Linked DNA regions of Homo sapiens. The protein of the gene in region 2 purifies or fractionates together with the protein of the main gene of each other region. This does not show direct contact. Each region holds a gene or a part of one and is shown on either strand. Other genes may lie near its edges. The genes, in order: SHCBP1, ASIC5 and USP33.

Region 1 (3,653 bases), on a different chromosome or scaffold from region 2:
AGAAACCATGGACGTCAGATGAAAGACACACAGTATTGTTCAAGGGCTAAAAGAAAAAAAATTGTCAACCCAGAATCCTATAACCAGTGAAAATATTCTTCAGGAATGAGGAGGAAATCAAGATATTCTAAGAAGAAGGAAAAATAGGAAAATTTGTCACCAGCAGACGTATCTTCATAGAATGACTAAAGGAAGTTATCTAAACAAAAAAGAAATGATAAAAGAGAAGATCCTGGAACATCAAAAAGAAAAAAAAAGAACACAGTAAGCAAAGATATAGGTAAATACAATAAGCTTTCCTTCTCTTGAGTGTTCTAAATTATGTTTGACATTTGAAACAAAAATCATAAAATTCTCTAATATGGTTCTAGATGTACGTACATAAGGCAAATGTTTAAGACAATTATAAAAAGGAGATGGTAGAGAATAATAAAAGGAGGCAAGGTTTCTATACTTTACTTGAACTGGTGACACCAGTAAACTGTTATGTACATATAATATACAACCTAGGGCGACCACTAAAAAAGTTATATGAAGAGATATTCTCAAAAACAAATGAAATTCTGAAAAATGTTCAGCTATCCACAGGATGGCAGAAAAAAAGCAAATCAAGAAATGAAAAGCATAACAAACAGAAAACACGAAATAAACTAAAGATTTAATATCAATAATTAAATGTAAGTGGTCTAAATACAATTAAAAGACAAAGATTGCCAAAGTGGATTAAAAACATGACTCAACTATATGCTGTCTACAACTCACTTCAAACAGAATATAGGCAAGTTGAAATTAAAACAATAGAAAAAGACTATTCAACAAGAGCTAACTATCCTAAATATATATGGGTGCATATAACTATCCTAAATATATATGCACCCAATACAGGAGCACCGGATTCATAAAGCATGCCCTTAGAGACCTACAAAGAGACTTAGACTCCCACACAATAATAATGGGAGACTTTAACACCCCACTGTCAACATTAGACAGATCAACAAGACAGAAAGTTAACAAGGATACCCAGGAATTGAACTCAGCTCTGCACCAAGCGGACCTAATAGACATCTACAGAACTCTCCACCCCAAATCAACAAAATATACATTCTTCACAGCACCACATCACACTTATTCCAAAATTGACCACATAGTTGGAAGTAAAGCACTCCTCAGCAAATATAAAAGAACAGAAATTATAACAAACTGTCTCTCAGACCACAGTGCAATCAAACTAGAACTGAGGATTAAGAAACTCACTCAAAACAAAACTGCTCCACTACATGGACACTGAACAACCTGCTCCTGAATGACAACTGGGTACATAACGAAATGAAGGCACAAACAAAGATGTTCTTTGAAACCAACGAGAACAAAGACACAACATACCAGAATCTCTGGGACACATTTAAAGCAGTGTGTAGAAGGAAATTTATAGCACTAAATGCCCACAAGAGAAAGCAGGAAAGATCTAAAATTGACACCCTAACATCACAATTAAAAGAACTAGAGAAGCAAGAGAAAGCACATTCCAAAGCTAGCAGAAGGCAAGAAATCACTAAGATCAGAGAAGAACTGAAGGAAATAGAGACACAAAAAACCCTTCAAAAAATCAATGAATCCAGGAGTTGGTTTTCTGAAAAGATTAACAAAATTGACAGACCACTAGCAAGACTAATAAAGAAGAAAAAAGAGAGAAGAATCAAATAGATGCAATAAAAACTAATAAAGGGGATATCACCACCAATCCCACAGAAATACAAACTACCATCAGAGAACACTATAAACACCTCTATGCAAATAAACTAGAAAATCTAGAAGAAATGGATAAATTCCTCAACACATACACCCTCCCAAGACTAAACCAGGAAGAAGTTGAATCTCTGAATAGACCAGTAACAGGTTCGGAAATTGAGGCAATATTTAATAGCCTACCAATCAAAAAAAGTCTAGGACCAGACGGATTCACAGCCGAATTCTACCAGAGGTACAAAGAGGAGCTGGTACCATTCCTTCTGAAACTATTCCAATCAATAGAAAAAGAGGGAATCCTCCCTAACTCATTTTATGAGGCCAGCATCATCCTGATACCAAAGCCTGGCAGAGACACAACAAAAAAAGAGAATTTAGACCAATATGCCTGATGAACATCGATGCAAAAATCCTCAATAAAATACTGGCAAACCGAATCCAGCAGCACATCAAAAAGCTTATCCACCATGATCAAGTTGGCTTCATCCCTGGGATGCAAGGCTGGTTCAACATATGCAAATCAATAAACGTAATCCATCATATAAACAGAACCAAAGACAAAAACCACATGATTATCTCAATAGATGCAGAAAAGGCCTTCAACAAAATTCAACAGCGTCTCATGCTAAAAACTCTCAATAAACTAGGTATTGATGGGATGTATCTCAAAATAATAAGAGCTGTTTATGACAAACCCACAGCCAATATCATAATCAATGGGCAAAAACTGGAAGCATTCCCTTTGAAAACTGTCACACAAGACAGGGATGCCCTCTCTCACCACTCCTATTCAACATAGTGTTGGAAGTTCTGGCCAGGGCAATCAGGCAGGAGAAAGAAATAAAGGGTATTGAATTAGGAAAAGAGGAAGTCAAATTGTCCCTGTTTGCAGATGACATGATTGCATATCTAGAAAACCCCATCGTCTCAGCCCAATATCTCCTTAAGCTGATAAGCAACTTCAGCAAAGTCTCAGGATACAAAATCAATGTGCAAAAATCACAAGCATTCCTATACACCAATAACAGATAAACAGAGAGTCAAATCATAAGTGAACTCCCATTCAAAATTGCTTCAAAGAGAATAAAATACTTAGGAATCCAACTTATAAGGGATGTGAAGGACCTCTTCAAGGAGAACTACAAACCACTGCTCAATGAAATAAAAGAGGACACAAATGGAAGAACATTCCATGCTCATGGATAGGAAGAATCAATATCATGAAAATGGCCATACTGCCCAAGGTAATTTATAGATTCAATGCCATCCCCATCAAGCTACCAAGGACTTTCTTCACAGAATTGGAAAAACTACTTTAAAGTTCATATGGAACCAAAAAAGAGCCCACATCGCCAAGACAATCCTAAGCCAAAAGAACAAAGCTGGAGGCATCACGCTACCTGACTTCAAACTATACTACAAGACTACAGTAACCAAAACAGCATGGTACTGGTACCAAAACAGAGATATAGACCAATGGAACAGAACAGAGCCCTCAGAAATAATACCACACATCTACAACCATCTGATCTTTGACAAACCTGACAAAAACAAGAAATGGGGAAAGGATTCCCTATTTAATAAATGGTGCTGGGAAAACTGGCTAGTCATATGTAGAAAGCTGAAACTGGATCCCTTCCTTACACCTTACAAAAATTAATTCAAGATGGATTAAAGACTTAAATGTTAGACCTAAAACCATTAAAACCCTAGAAGAAAATCTAGGCAATACCATTCAGGACATACGCATGGCAGGACTTCATGACTAAAACACCAAAAGCAATGGCAACAAAAGCCAAAATTGACAAATGGGATCTAGTTAAACTAAAGAGCTTCTGCACAGCAGAACAAACTACCATCAGAGTGAACAGGCAACCTACAGAATGCAAGAAAATTTTTACAATCTA
Region 2 (4,266 bases):
AGCAAATTTATAGGAACTAATTATTTTTAAAAAAGTAATTTTTACCTGTTCAAATTACAAAATGTCACAGCTGGGAACTCCATCTTTTCCACATATTGAACCTCAATGGACGTTGTGGTTGGCCATGTGAAGTAGTTGAGCAAGCGAATGTAGATCTGCCATGTCACAAGTGAGACTGAGCCCAGAACCACCACCAACCAGAGCACCCTGCGAATTTTGCTCCGGTTCTGAACAATATTGTGTATCCCATGAAAGGAAGTGGAGATGGCAAAGTCATGGTCAAACTTCTTTCGCTCAGTGGGAGATGGCAGTGGTTTCTTTGAAAGGCAAAGCTTTATCTTTTCTAAGAGTCCTTAAGGTTTTGCCCATAAAATGATTAAACAAAAAAAAGTAATTAGGAAACCTTAATGCTATCCGTAAAAAAACACAACTCACATAATTTAAAGAGGTGACTCTTTTTACTTGTAATTCATAGAAACTAAAAATTCATCTTTTGTTGCATGATTTATTCAGGAATCAAGAAGTGTAAGTGTTGGCTACATGGGTTTATTGAGAAGATGCTAATGCTATTCATAGAACGGCTATTATTAATGTAAATGTGTTAGTGGTATGGTATTAATAGGTGACTTCCAGCTTTAAAACCAAGTTGGTTACAACAATTCATAAACTTTAAATATTAACTCTTATTTTTAAAATGCTCTTTCTCTCTGAAAGTCCTTTAGAAGTCATGAACAAAATGAGGCTGATTCCTCTGACAGTCCTAAGTATGGCTAAAAGTAATCTGTTCTTAACTAATGTTTGTCCTATGGTGGTATAATTTATGGTAAATGTAACTTTCATTCTCGTATTCTTTAATGTACAACTATTTTATATTTTGTTGGTTGTTTAGTCAGAATGTTCAGTGTTCAGTTGTAGTATTAGTTAAGTAATCTATTTTCTACCTCTTCATGGAATTAATTCATCATTTCAAGTCTATCAGGAATCAATCAATAATATTTATTGATATTCATTGGTAAGAACCAGGGAAGGTAACACTAAATTTTTTTGGCAATATATGATATGTTGACAATTTTATTTTGGTTAAATTTCTTTCCATTTGTTCATAGGAGAAGAGGCAATGAATCCCTTTGTGGAGGGAAAGGTTCAATATAGTTAAGAGCATGAGATGGGCTTCACAATGGAAGATCAGGCTTCCGGTCCATTCCTCGCCTCTTATAACCTGCACAACTTTAGCCAAGTTTCTTAGTCTTATACCTTTTCTGTCAAATGGCAGCAATGGTATCTGCCTTATGAATTTGTTGTATTAAATTTGTTGATAATACCTGGAGAGAGCTTAGCACATTATCTAGATCATAATAAGTACTCAAGGGTATTAGCTATTTTTATTATTCTGCTAATGTAGTGGTGATGTGGTAAATAGTAAAATATTCAGGAATTTTAAAAAGCTTTAAAAGTATCTTAAAAAATTAGTTCTTAATGGCTTTATATATGTTCATAATTAGGTGAATTAACTTTTATATCCTTTGCCAAAATAATACTTTTGGAATATAGGTATTCAACTATCCAGCATTAATTTACTTACAAGATGTTTCAAGCTTCATTTACTATTAAATCATTATTTAATACAACATAAATAACCAATCAATTAGCTAAGCTTTTTATTCAGTTATAGGACATATGCTATAAAAAGGTGTCTATTAACATTTTCTAAGGGAGTCCATTTCATTCACTTACAAATTATATTATTATTATTTTACAAATTATATTATGATTATTATTCACTAAGCAGGATAGCTTGTATTAATATGATTAGCTTGAAGTTGGACTAAAATCTTAGAATAGCACCGTTATTAATGTTGTTTTTAGTATAAAATTAATGAACATGTATCAAGTAACTGGCATAATCCCAGAGAAAAATCAGAAACAAGAAAAAAGTTATTGTTACTAATTAGCAAAATATATTTAAATATGCTCTTTTGTGTATTCTTTAGTCATGACTTGCAAACATATGCGAAGAATTTACTCTGATAAAAGAACAACTCAGTCTCTGGATAACTTGTACCATTCCTAGAATAGGGATCAAAACTATTAGAAGGGGAAGACTAATGTAGTAACTAGTTACTGACAAGCAAAGTGTGGCTAGTTGCAAGCATTACCCCAAAACATTTAACTTTCAAGTTTGCCTGTCAAAAATCAGCCCATTTAATATACATCTAATCCTTGACAATTGGTTTGGCCTTTCTGGAGTAATACCAACTATTTTCTAGTGTTTTAATAGAGTTTTTTTTATTATTGTTTTAGGTAAATGTATGACTGTCAGGAAGATTAAAATTGGTTGAATAAATGGCCCACTAGTTTGCAAAGCAGAAACTTCTTACTCTCCTGACTGGAGTATATACAGTGTCATTATGACAACTAGACCTTGCATTGAGTGCTGATCAACATAGAAGCATTTTGAGGAACATCAAATCAGCTTTGTTACATTTAAAAAATAAAACCTGCAGGCCCAGGATAAATAGAAACCAAAAGAAATAAAACAAAACAAAGAAACAAAATCAGATTCTGGCATATAGTAATATTTTAAAACTATTTTTGAGTCCCTCATACAAATAACTTTTTTTCTAAGTAAAACTATTCATTTTTAAAACTTATATTACTTATATTGTGTTCAAGTAACATTGGAAATCAAATTTCCCAAATGAAGAAAAAAAATCTCTCTTTTCTTACTTCTGGCCTCTAGAAATGAAAAATATTACTGCTCTGAGGAGTTCACTCTTTACTCACCGTTCTCAGCATATACTTTTGATTTTTCTGTCTGCTCCATTTGTGATTTCAGTTAAGCAAGAGTCCTCAGGGTAACCCAATTTTCATCAATAACAGTATTCATTTTGTGCCCTTTATATAAAATACAGCAGTTGAGGTTGTAAAACATGGAAGCAATTTAAATGTTTGTGTTGCTATGTTTTGCCTCATAAAGCACATAATCTGAAAACCAAAAATGTTGACAGAACCAGGTATGGGCATTTATGGACTGATGAGAAGCTAACCCAGAGTGATTTCATGAGTGAAAAGCAAAAAGTATCATTAGGAAACCATTTTCTCACAGTTAAAGGGACACTTCCTATCAAATATGTGTAGTTAAGCAGCAGCCCCTGACCAGGCTAGTTGACACTCCAATGACTCACCCGGGAACGTCTTCTTAGCTTTTCTTTTTACCTTTGTCTTTATTCAACTTCAAATCAAAACGCAGCTGGAATAAATTTTTTTTTATGGGAAAGGTGTCTTCCCTTGTCGGTGTTTCTTTCTTAGTAACAGAAGCTGTTTCTAACAGAAATAATAGCCAATAAACATGACAAAATAAAACACCAAAAAATATCTGCTCAAGAATAAATGATTACTGAAAACAAACAACTTACTAAAACATAAAGTCTGATTATTTTTTATATGAACACTTTTGGAAAATTGTTAGAATTTATTATATTGAATAATAAATGGAAGAATGTGCATTATTGTGCATAAAGGGCATCATCTCTTGACAGAATTCAGTGATTGCATGTATCTGTACCTAATAGAGCTTGTTAGACTCACCATTTTATAAGCATCTCACCATTAATCATCAGTATGATTACGTATATTTTGCATATATTTGGAAACTTGTAAACTCAGCACTATAAGTTCAAACTAGTCTTATACGGAGGCAAACTAATTCCAAGTGATGTAAGTAAGGAATCTGGCTAGAGGTCCTCAGTTATCACAGTAAAGATTTCAGGAATAGGATAAATTTCATGATATATGAATTTCTCCATTAAAGAGCTCTTCTTTAGGGTTAAATTATGTATTATTCTGTTCTCACACTGCTGATAAAGACATATTCAAGACTGGGTAATTTAGAAAGAGGTTTAATTGACTCACAGTTTCACATAGCTGGGAAGACCACGCAATCATGGTGGAAGGTGAAAGAGGAGCAAAGTTACATCTAACATGGAGGCAGGCAAGAGAGTTTGTGTAGGGGAACTTCCCTTCATAAAACTATCAGATCTCTTGAGACTGTTTCACTCTCATGAGAACAGCATGGGAAAGACCCGCCTCCATGATTCAATTAACTCTCACAGGGTCCCTCCCACAGAACATGGGAATTATGGAAGCTATAATTAAAGATGAGATTTGGGTGGGGACACAGTCAAATCATTTCATTCTGCCCCTAGCCCCTGCCAAATCTCATGTCTTCACATTGTTCAAAGCCAATCATGTCTTCCCAAAAGTGCC
Region 3 (3,653 bases), on a different chromosome or scaffold from region 2:
CCCTAAAGATGAGTACTGAGCGCTTTGTTTACTGAAAGTATTTAAGCTATGTATTTTCCTCTAAAGTAAAAATTCTGCATTTGCCAATGAAATGTAGATGTTCTTCTCACTGCTTTTTAGGCAATACTATTTTGCCTCAGAGGAAAGAAATGGGATCAGAGGATTGAAAAGAAACTTCCAAGATAAATATTTTTTTCTAAAATCTCAAGCAAAAAATAAGATTAAAATAAATTCTCTCTGCTGATAGCTGAGATGAAAAAAAGAATAAAACATAAATACATTCTCTCTGCTCTGCTATTAATTTTGCATTATCTAAACAATTTAATAAGAATTGGCTGGGCAGGGCCAGGTGCGATGACTGTAATTCCAGAATTTTGGGAGGCCGAAGTAGGTGGATCACCTGAGTTCAGGAGTCTGAGACCAGCCTGGCCAACATGGCAAAACCCCTTCTTTACTAAAAATACAAAAATTAGCCGTGCATAGTGGTGGGTGCCTGTAATCCCAGCTACTCGGGAGGCTGAAGCAGGAGAATCACTTGAACCCAGGAGGCAGAGGTTGCAGTGAGCCGTGATCACGCCACTGCACACCAGCCTGGGCAACAGAGCAAGGCTCCATCTCCAAAAAAAGAAAGAAAGAAAGAATTGGCTGGGCAGCCACGCATGACAGCTCAGGTCTGTAATCCCAGCACTTTGGGAGGCCAAGGCGGGAAGATCATTTGAGCTGACGAGTTCAAGACCAGCCTGGGCAACATGGTGAAACCCCATCTCTCTACAGAAAATAGAAAAATCAGCCCAGCGTGGTGGTGCACACCTGTAGTTCCACTGAGGCAGGAGAATCCCTTGAGCCCAGGAGGCAAAGGTTGCAGTGAGCCAAGATTGCACCACTGCACTCCAGCCTGTGCAACACAGCAAGACCCTGACTTAAAAAAGAAAGAAAGAAAGAAAGAAAGAAAGAAAGAAAGAAAGAAAGAAAGAAAGAAAGAAAGAAAAAGGAAAAGAATTAGTGCATGTAAACAAAGGCTAACAATTTGTCCCAAGGATATTTAGTATCCCGTATAATACAATGCTATCAAAATAGAAAACCCTTAGTATTTTCTTTGCCTAGTTTTACTCAGTTTATTTACTAAGGTAATAAAATCATTCTTTTATTCCTTTATTTGACAAATGTTTATTGAGGGTAGGGCATTCAGATATAGTAGGGTAAGACAATGGGAGTTCTTAGCTACTTCAATTTCTTCTCAAATTGTACACCAAAAGAAAGAAGGCATGTATGCTTCCATTCTTGTCTGATAATTTAATCACAGGAGATGAGTATTAGACATTAGAAAAAAACAGAAAATGGTTGTATATGGAAATGCTATTGTCCAATCCACAGAAGTAGATTTTGCAAAACTAAGACTCCTGTAGAAGCTTGTGACTTACAAGTTGGAAATCACAAAGAGTGCACAAGATTTTATCTGTTTGTCCTTATCTTTGTAATCTTGTATCTGGCAGCTTTTTCCTCTATCTGCCACACTAACTGGACTACTGGAAGTTTTCTCACCAATAATGATGGCAGCAACACCAACTGAAAATTTTTCCAGATGAAAACGACTGCACTCACGCTCTATGATGTACAGCTCCGGTGGCTAAATTGCTCATCTGCATTAAAGTAAATGCAAAACTGCTTCTGGGCTGGGCATGGTGGCTCGCACCTGTAATCCCAGCACTTTAGGAGACTGAGGCGGGAGGACTGCTTGAACCCAGGAGTTCAAGACCAGCCTGGGCAACACGGCAATACCCTGTCTCTACCCCAAAAAAATACAAAAATTACCCAGGCCTGGTGGCATGCCCCTGCAGTCCCAGCTATTCAGGAGGCTGAGGTGGGAGGATCACCTGAGCCCAGGAGGCAGAAGTTGCATGCAGTGAGCTGTGATTGCACCACTGCACTCCCGCCTGAGTGACAGAGCTAGGCCTTGTCTCAAAAACAAAACAAAACTGCTTCTGAAGATATTACCTTTTTTTTTTTGAGACGGAGTCTTGCTCTGTCGCCCAGGCTTGAGTGCAGTGGCGCGATCTCAGCTCACTGCAAGCTCCACCTCCCGGGTTCACGCCATTCTCCTGCCTCAGCCTCCTGAGTAGCTGGGACTACAGGCACCCGCCATCACACCCAGCTAATTTTTTGTATTTCCAGTAGAGATGGGGTTTCACTGTGTTAGCCAGGATGGTCTCGATCTCTTGACCTCGTGATCCGCCCACCTCGGCCTCCCAAAGTGCTGGGATTACAGGCTTGAGCCACCGCGCCGCGCCCGAAGATATTACTTTTAAGGGGAGAATATTTTCGTAGTACAATCTCCAAATTCCAGGTTGAAATTCTGACCCCTTATCCTAATAGAAGATAATCAATCAGCTATTCAAATTTTAATATTAGGAAAAGTATAGGGAACCATGTTATTAGTACAATTTTTTTTTTTTTTGAGACAGAATTTCACTCTGTCGCCCAGGCTGGAGTGCAGTGGCGCAATCTCGGCTCACTTGCAACTTCTCCCTCCCAGGTTCAAGCAATTCTCATGCCTCAGTCACTTGAGTAGCTGGGATTACAAGCATGTGTCACCACATCCAGCTAAATTTTTGTATTTTTAGTAGAGACGGAGTTTCACCGTGTTACCCAGACTGGTCTCAAACTTCTGGCCTCAAGTGATCCACCCACCTCGGCCTCCCAAAGTGCTGGGATTACAGGAGTGAGCCACTGCGCCTGGCCTTAATATAATAATTACACATCAGGACATAGTTGGTAACCTAAGGAGCTTTTAATATTGAGAAACTGCCTGAATTCCATTGCCTAGTCTATTCCAAAAAGTAAAGCTCTTCATAAAAAGTCAGATTCACATTACAGAGAAAAAAAATTATGTCAGAAGGATTGGTAGCTATTTAATAGTTACATATAAGATTAATATGAATGCAGGAGGTCTTCACTAGCAGGTGTCAGAACTGCTCAATATTTTTAACAATAACCTGGATAAAGCTACAGAAGGCAGGCTAGTAAAATATAAACTTAAAATTATAAAAATAAGTTTTTAAAGAAAAATTAAACTATTTTTTAAAATAAGCTAAAATTGGCTGGGCGTGGTGGCTCACACCTGTAATCCCAGCACTTTGCGAGGCCGAGGCCGGTGGATCACCTGAGGTCAGGAGTTCATTACCAGCCTAGCCAACATGGTGAAACCCTGTCTCTACTAAAAACACAAAAAATTAGCAGGGCGTGGTGGTGTGCGTCTGTAGTCCTAGCTAGCTGGGAGGCTGAGGCATGGGAATTGCTGGAACCCGCGAAGAGGAGGTCGAAGTGAGCCAAGATCATGCCACTGCACTCCAGTCTGGGTGACAAGAGCAAAACTCCATCTCAAAAAATAAAAAATAAAAAAAATTAGCTAAAATTAACAGGACGAAATTTAATAATGATGGATGTGATATTCGACATTGGGATTCAAAGAATCAACCATATAAACTGAGACCAAAAAAGGGGGTCAGGTATTTGGATTCTAGACCCTTGAAGAAGTAGCAATTCCTACTCAATTAATCAACAGAACACTAGGTTTCAAGGTTTCAGAATAAAAAGAGTAACCAGTCTTGCTGGGTATGGTGGCTCACACCTGTAATCCCAGCACTCTGGGAGGC

The links.
Region 1: the proteins of ASIC5 (region 2) and SHCBP1 purify together in Homo sapiens (affinity purification with mass spectrometry; one large-scale study listed by BioGRID and IntAct). This does not show direct contact.
Region 3: the proteins of ASIC5 (region 2) and USP33 purify together in Homo sapiens (affinity purification with mass spectrometry; one large-scale study listed by BioGRID and IntAct). This does not show direct contact.

What each region holds. Positions count from the first base shown.
Region 1 is NC_000016.10:46,586,760-46,590,412, forward strand, and holds part of SHCBP1 (SHC SH2 domain-binding protein 1), read right to left. Parts: intron 47-3,653; coding exon of another isoform or gene 1-46. UniProt on the Homo sapiens protein: May play a role in signaling pathways governing cellular proliferation, cell growth and differentiation. May be a component of a novel signaling pathway downstream of Shc. Acts as a positive regulator of FGF signaling in neural progenitor cells.
Region 2 is NC_000004.12:155,863,403-155,867,668, forward strand, and holds the start of ASIC5 (bile acid-sensitive ion channel), read right to left. Parts: upstream 2,876-4,266; 5' UTR 2,825-2,875; coding exon 2,785-2,824; exon of another isoform or gene 353-2,784; coding exon 46-352; exon of another isoform or gene 1-45. UniProt on the Homo sapiens protein: Forms bile acid-gated sodium channels and may play a role in bile acid-dependent absorption and secretion by epithelial cells of the bile ducts. Displays high selectivity for sodium ions but can also permit the permeation of other cations.
Region 3 is NC_000001.11:77,749,700-77,753,352, forward strand, and holds part of USP33 (ubiquitin carboxyl-terminal hydrolase 33), read right to left. Parts: intron 1-3,653. UniProt on the Homo sapiens protein: Deubiquitinating enzyme involved in various processes such as centrosome duplication, cellular migration and beta-2 adrenergic receptor/ADRB2 recycling.